Homo sapiens: one gene and its partner. The protein of the gene in region 1 purifies or fractionates together with the protein of each later gene. This does not show direct contact. Each region holds a gene or a part of one and is shown on either strand. Other genes may lie near its edges. The genes, in order: GUSB and CPOX.

What was found.
Region 2: the proteins of GUSB (region 1) and CPOX fractionate together in Homo sapiens (co-fractionation; one large-scale study listed by BioGRID). This does not show direct contact.

The regions. Positions count from the first base shown.
Region 1 is NC_000007.14:65,972,071-65,975,882, forward strand, and holds part of GUSB (beta-glucuronidase isoform 1 precursor), read right to left. Parts: intron 3,002-3,812; coding exon 2,849-3,001; intron 2,635-2,848; coding exon 2,456-2,634; intron 2,372-2,455; coding exon 2,225-2,371; intron 1-2,224. UniProt on the Homo sapiens protein: Plays an important role in the degradation of dermatan and keratan sulfates.
Region 2 is NC_000003.12:98,583,490-98,587,301, forward strand, and holds part of CPOX (oxygen-dependent coproporphyrinogen-III oxidase, mitochondrial precursor), read right to left. Parts: intron 2,730-3,812; coding exon of another isoform or gene 2,729-2,729; exon of another isoform or gene 2,177-2,728; intron 2,171-2,176; coding exon 1,952-2,170; intron 1-1,951. UniProt on the Homo sapiens protein: Catalyzes the aerobic oxidative decarboxylation of propionate groups of rings A and B of coproporphyrinogen-III to yield the vinyl groups in protoporphyrinogen-IX and participates to the sixth step in the heme biosynthetic pathway.

The DNA of each region.
Region 1 (3,812 bases):
CCCTTAGAAGGGAAGAAAAACCCAACAGAGGGACCCGTCTGTGCTCAGAGCTCCTGGCACCTGCCCGAGGCCTCCACAGTACAGACTGTTTTTGTTTTTGTTTTTTTGAGAGACAGAATCTCACTCTGTAGCCCAGGCTGGAGTGCAATGACATGATCTTGGCTCACTGCAACCTCCACCTCCTGGGCTCAAGCAATTCTCCTGCCTCAGCCTCCCAAGTAGCTGGGATTACAGACGCCCACCTCTGTGTTCCGCTAATTGTTTTATTTTTAGTAGAGACAGGGTTTCAATATCTGTTGGCCACGCCGGTCTCAAACTCCTGACCTCAGGTGATCCACCCACCTTGGCCTCCCAAAGTGCTGGGATTACAGGCGTGAGCCACCGCACCCAGCCTAGACTGTTGTTGAAGCCTGTTTTCCTCTTCTCTTTCCTCAGTTCATTTCTTCTTTTACGCCCTCCCCCATCATTGCTCTGCCTATCCGAAGGCTGTGGCTGGCACAGATCAGAAAAGAACCCCCTAGCCTCAAGTTCCAAACCCACACTCTCCAACAGCCAGGCTCTCAGATGGGAAACTTCAAAGCCTGTGACAGCCTGGCTGAACCTCTCCAGCCTGGGTGGCTCCCTCCAAATCCTGCCCCAGAAAACAGGCATCTCCTCTGGCCACCTCCCAAAGAAGCCTCAAACACCTGCTCCTGGAAGCCTGTACTCTTCCCCTTCGCAACAAAGGGCCTGTCCACCCAGTCCTGCTGAGCACACCCCTGTGCCCCCAAGCTCTGAATTGTCCTTGGCCCAGGCTGCAACAACTTCTCAGAGCCTTCTGCCTGCTGCAGACTTGGCTCAGCCCAAAGCACTGCATGAAATTGGGGTGTGCTGTATGAGTCAAGAGGCATTTCTACCACCTCTCCTGCTTCTACCCCAAGTGAAAAATCCAACTCTGAACGCTGAGTTAGAACTGCACGATTGTAAGGAAGAAAAGGGGGCCAGGTGTGGTGGTTCACACCTGTAATCCCAGCACTTTGGGAAGGTGAGGCAGGAGGATCACTAGAGGCCAGGAGTTCCACGCCAGCCTGGCAAACATGGTGAAACCCAGTCTCTAATTAGCCGGGCACGGTGGCTCACGCCTGTAATCCCAGCACTCTGGGAGGCCGAGGTAAGTGGATCTCCTGAGGTCAGTAGTCCAAGACCAGCCTGGCCCAACATAGTGAAACCCCGTCTCTACTGAAAAATGCAAAAGTTGGCCAGGCGTGGTAGCTCACGCCTGTAATCCGAGCACTTCAGGAGGCCGAGGCAGGCGGATCATGAGTTCAAGAGATCGAGACCATCCTAGCCAAAATGGTGAAACCCCGTCTCTGCTAAAAATACAAAAATTAGCAGGGTATGTTGGCGTGTGCCTGTAATCCCAACTCCTCAGGAGGCTGAGGCAGGAGAATCACTTGAACCTGGAAGGTGAAGGTTGCAGTGAGACGAGATTGCGCCACTGCACTCCAGCCTGGCCACGGAGTGAGACTCCATCTCATAAAAAGGAAAAAAGGAAAACTTAGCTGGGCGTGGTGGCATGTGCCTGTAATCCCAGCTACTCGGGAGGCTGAGGCTGGAGAATCACTTGAACCTGAGCGGCAGAGGTTGCAGTGAGCTGAGATCATGCCCCTGCACTCCATCCTGGGCAATAGAGGGAGACTGCATATCCAAAAAATAAAAAATAAAGCAAAAATTAGCTGGGCGTGATGACACACATCTAGAATCCCAGCTACTTGGGAGGCTGAGACAGGAGGATCACCTGAGCCTGGGAAGTCAAGGCTGCAGTAAGCCAAAACTGCACCGCTGCACTCCAACCTGGGCAACCAGAGTGAGAACCCATTTTGAAAAAAAAAAACAGCCCCAGCACAGTGGTTCATGGGTGCCTGTAATCCTAGCTACTCAGGAGACTGAGGCAGGAGAATCACTTGAACCCAGGAGGCAGAGGTTGTAATGAGCGGAGATCACCCCACTGCACTCCAGCCTGGGCCATATAGTGAGACTCCATCTCAAAAAGAAAAAAAAAGAACAAAAAAGAAAACCACAATTTGGGTGGGTAGATATTTGGTCCCCTGAACTATCTGGGTATGGACGGCCTTCCCATTGGGCTGGACACGAGGCCGATCTTGAACAGCACATGCCCACCGAGGCCAGCCACCTGCCAGGGTCTCCTTCCCACTCTAGCCGAGGGCAGGGAGGGAGCACTCACTTCAAGTAGTAGCCAGCAGATTCTAGGTGGGACGCAGGCTCGTTGGCCACAGACCACATCACGACCGCGGGGTGGTTCTTGTCCCTACGCACCACTTCTTCCATCACCTGCATGTGGTGATGCAGAGAAACGTTGTTGAAGAACTGCCTGCGGGCCAGGAGGGAAGGGACAGAGGGTCACGGTGACGCCCCCGGGCTGGGCAGGCGGAGCAGGTGCACAGCAGAGACTCACGGCAGCGCCAGGCCCACGCCGGGACACTCATCGATGACCACAATCCCATAGCGGTCACACATCTGCATCACTTCCTCTGCATAGGGGTAGTGGCTGGTACGGAAAGCGTTGGCACCAAGCCAGCGAAGCAGGTTGAAGTCCTTCACCAGCAGCGGCCAGTCGAAGCCCTTCCCTCGGATCTAGGAGATAGCAGAGCCAAGTGACCCCTGTCCCTGTCGAAGCTGCACTTCCTCTGAGAGCCAGGACCCTGGAGAGCCACCCCATGAGCCCCCTCTCCATTTGGAGCCATTTGCCTCATTGCCCTGAGCTGCCCTCAACTGCAGGACACAGGGAAGGCGAAAGTGGAGGGTGACCAGAAGCAGCCCCGACAAGGACCCAGGAGCCCCAACACACGTCCGCATCCTCATGCTTGTTGACACCGTGGAAATAGAAAGGTTTCCCATTGATGAGGAACTGGCTCTTGGTGACAGCCACAGTGCGGATCCCCACAGGGAGTGTGTAGAAGTCAGACACAGGCCCCAGTGACGTCTGTGCAGTCAGCTGCACCTATGACAGCCAAAGCACCAGGTGTGAGCACCCCGACAGCCTGAGCCCCATCCGGCCTGCCCTCCAGCAGGAAGGCCCCTCGTGCACCCCAGCAGCTGCCTCTGGGCCTGTAAGCAGAGATGCAGCAATCAGAGGTTCTGCCCTACCCTGGCTGACCCTGGGAACCTGCCCTTCAAAACATGGCCTTCCCTTTGACAAGACAAGGTGGCTCATGCCTGGAGTTCCCACACTTTGGGAGGCTAAGGCAGGAGGATCACTTGAGTCCAGGAGTTGAAGACCAGCCTGCTGACAGACTGAGACCCCATCTCTATAAAAAAAAAATGTTTTTCTTCTGAGACAGTCTCAGTCTGTCCCCCAGGCTGGAGTGCAGTGGTGTGATCTCAGCTCACTGCAGCCTCTGCCTCCTGAGTTCAAGCAATTCTCCTGCCTCAGCCTCCCGAGTGGCTGGAATTACAGGTGTTCGCCACCATGCCCAGCAAATTTTCATATTTTTAGTAGAGATGGGGTTTCACCATGTTGGCCAGGCTGGTCTTGAACTCTTGGCCTCAAGTGATCCACCCACCTCAGCCTCCCAAAATGCTGAGATTACAGGCATGAGTCACTCTGCCCAGGCTACAAAATTTTTTTTATTTAGCCAGACATGGTGGCATGTGCCTGTAGTCCCAGCTACTCAGGAGGCCAAGGCAGGAGGACTGCTGCAGGCTGAGAGTTCAAGGCTGCAGTGAGCTGTGATCAGGCCATTGCACTCCAGCCTGGGTGACAGAGTGAGACCATCTCAAAAAAAAAAAAAAAAAAGAAAATGGGCCTCCCA
Region 2 (3,812 bases), on another chromosome or scaffold:
ACTTTAACCAATCCCTTCAATTTAACTAATGCCTAAATTTTATCCTGTTTCCCTTTCCCAGAATACAACGAACAAGTAAGTTAAAAGTCTTTAATTTCTGTTTTCCTATGAAAAGGATAACTGTAAGACTGATGTTCAAGGTCTGGGGGAGGATAGCAGTAACTGTGGGCAAGAAACTGGATGAGATTGCCAAATAAGAGACTGTAAAGTCAAAAGGGAATGAGACTGACTGCTGAAAGGGAGACCGGTGTTTGGACAGGGTGAAGACGAGGCAAAGTGGGTAACAGTAAGTGAAAAGGATACAGAAAACTGGTCATGACTGCAGTATTAGAAACCAAAGACAGTGTTGATAGCCCCAGAGAAGAACTGGAGTTATCTTAGGCCCCAGAGTTTATTGCCATCTTAAGGACCAGAGATAAGGGAGGCAGAAAGAAGCTGTCTTTGAAGAACAGTCACACACCATACCATAGAAAATTAATCTACTACCCCACAGTTCTGCCTATCTCATGACACCAGACATGCAATGATACACAACAACGACTTTCAGAATGATCTGCCATCAAACGATGTATAAAAAACAAAACAAAACCGCAAAACAAACCATTACTCCTGTCTATGAAGTTTTAAAGGATTCACCTAATTAGTATTGACAAAATCTGCCAAGTTTTGCCTTCGAAATCTTGTGCAAAACTAGAATACTTTACTTTGCACAGAGTTCTAAATTGTCCTCTTGGGTATGTCTTCCCCACTAAACTATGAGGTTCTTTTTGGCAGGTCCATGTTACAGCCACCGGGTAGCCAAGATAGTGCCTCATCACAGGGGCCCCAAAATAAGTATCAAGTGAAAGGAGGAAAGAGTGGTAAAGGTATATTTAAGAAATTATGGAAGCAAACAAAAAACATGTTCCAAAATACATGCATTCTTTAAGAAATTTCTAAAAATTTACTCTCATGTTTTTCAAGTTAATAAATGGGAACCAGATAGCACAGGCAGTCATAAGAAAGGATATACACAAATGTTTATCTTTAGACTGGAAACATTATTTAAGTTGACCTCTTTAAGGCAAAAGCTTTACCTCTTTAGTACCCAAAGCTTCTTTTGCCTAACACAGAATTAACGTCAATGAGAAAATCCATTTTATAGCCATGTTTCAGTAGTATACAGGCATTTAAGGTGGCAATGAGAAACTGATTGGGGCCAGCAGGCTGTATAACTTGGAGTGGATTTACAAGTACACCGTGGCTGGAGACAGCCTCAGACTGGACACCCCACTGAGCTCACCAGGCTCACTGCACAGAACAGGGTGGTTAAAGTGAGTATCATGGTAAGAAGCACAAACCTGCTTCAGCTGCTTAACTTTAGGCACTACACAGACTATAAGTTTTGAGGTCATTTTGACCCAGTTCCACATCTGAGATCTTAAATTTACCAGCTGTGTCTCTTGGGCAACAGACTTAACTTTCTGAAAAAAGATGATTACACCTATCTTACAGGTTTGTTGAAAAACATCAGATACAAAATGCCTAATGTAGAGGCCAGCAAAATTTCTGAAATTATTTCCATTAAAATAACTTCCGTGAAATCTTTAAGATGAATGAAAAAAGGTGTGATTCCAAATTTACAAAGCAGCAAAGACATTAAATGAAGTCTACATCTTGACATAAGGCTGGAGGGTATTACAAGAAGACTAAGAGAAATCAGCAGAATTAAATTCAGGAAGTACTTACTACATGCCTACTATGAGTCTCTAATGTATAGATGAATTAAATAAACTTTGCTATAATTATAATATTACTTTACACAATGTCTTTTAATTCACTTAATATTCATCTATGAAAAGAAATTAACACAACTATTACAAAGTATCTGACAACACAACACCCGCTATTATTAAGAGCTGCTCCACCTCCCCCACTTAGCCATGAAAGAATTCGTTTTCCAGTCACTTACCGTCCTCTTCTGAGCTGCTGCCACAGCTTCTCCTGGGGGGTGAATGAGTCATCACAGTGCTTTTTCACAAGGGGAATGTAAGAAGGAACTACAGCCCTGGCACAGCTCTGTACAAAGCGAAACACCTCCTCCTTGGACGGAGAGTCAAGATCATCAAAAAAGATACCACCAATGCCCCGCCGTTCTCCACGATGGGCTATAAAGAAGTAATCATCACACCTGGAAAACACAGCGGCGCCAAACCAGGGATCAAATGGAAAAAAACAGACATGAAAATCAATGTGAGCCTTTCAGGTTACAGCACTATCCTCAACTAATGTCAGGATGGTGTCCTTACTTGCTGTCCAACTATGAAAATGAAATGAGGACTTTAGACAGATAGATTTTTTGCAGATATCACCAAGGTAGAAAATGCTTATCCTCTTTTTCTTTTCTTTTCTTTTTTTTTTTGAGACGGACTCTTGCTCTGTCCCCCACGCTGGAGTGCAGTGGTGCGATCTTGAATCACTGCAAGCTCCGCCTCCCGGGTTCACGCCATTCTCCTGCCTCAGCGTCCCAAGTAGCTGGGACTACAGGTGCCCACCACCATACCTGGCTAATTTTTTGTATTTATAGTAGAGACGGGGTTTCACTGTGTTAACCAGGGTGGTCTCGATCTCCTGACCTCGTGATCTGCCTGCCTCGGCCTCCCAAAGTGCTGGGATTACAGGCGTGAGCCACCATGCCTGGCTGCTTATCCTCTTATTTTCAAGGCGAACAGGCAATTTCACACAAGTCTCTGTAAAGGATGTGAAACTCTAAGAACTTTAGTGAAAAGAGAAACAGTCCAATATCGATAGTGTATTTCTTGGAATAAGCTGCTGCCTTCGGAAGCACTGCTGCTTTTGTAGGAGGCAGGAGGACAGGAATCTTCCACTAACAATGACACCAACCATGGTGCAAATCCAAGCTCTCTTGAGTGAGTTCTTTATTCACCAAAGGAAGGTACTATAAACAATCTCTCAGGTCTCTTTCAGAAATAAAATTTGATGGTTCTATAGCATGAAAGACAGGGAAAAGTTGGTGGAAAAAAAGGTTCAGATGATATCTTTTATTATTTCATATGTCATATCAGACATATGAAAGTTTACCCTGTGAGGCAGCACATAAAACTATTAATCTGTTCTTGAGTCTTTTCCCCTCTATGACTACTAGAACAGGTTTCCTAAGAAGCCATTTCCTGGGCCGGACGCGGTGGCTGACGCCTGTAATCCCAGCACTTTGGGAGGCCGAGGCAGGCGGATCACGAGGTCAGGAGATCGAGACCATCCTGGCTAACACGGTGAAACCCCGTCTCCACTAAAAATACAAAAAATTAGCCAGGCGTGGTGGTGGGCACCTGTAGTCCCAGCTACTCGGGAGGCTGAGGCAGGAGAATGGCGTGAACCCGGAAGGCAGAGCTTGCAGTGAGCCGAGATCGCACCACTGCACTCCAGCCTGGGCGACAGAGTGAGACTCCATCTCAAAAAACAAACAAACAAACAAACAAACAAACAAAAAAGAAGCCATTTCCTAACTGTTAAACTTGTAAAATAGTTTATATCCTAAAAGTAGTTCTTTTGATAATCTCTGCATAAGGGTCCTTAAATAGAAAAACATGCTCAAACAAAAACTAAAAGCTATTTAAAAGGTTACCTTAAATACAGCTTCAATTGCTTAAACAACAACAACAAAAAACAACAGATGCAAATCCCTAGAACTGACGCATAGGTAGAATTCACCTTAATCGTGACTTGTTGGCCTTCTTTATATGCACATTTTATTAACATAGTCTAAAAAAGTATATCCTGAGTAAAGTTGTAAAGTCAGTTTTTAACCCAAA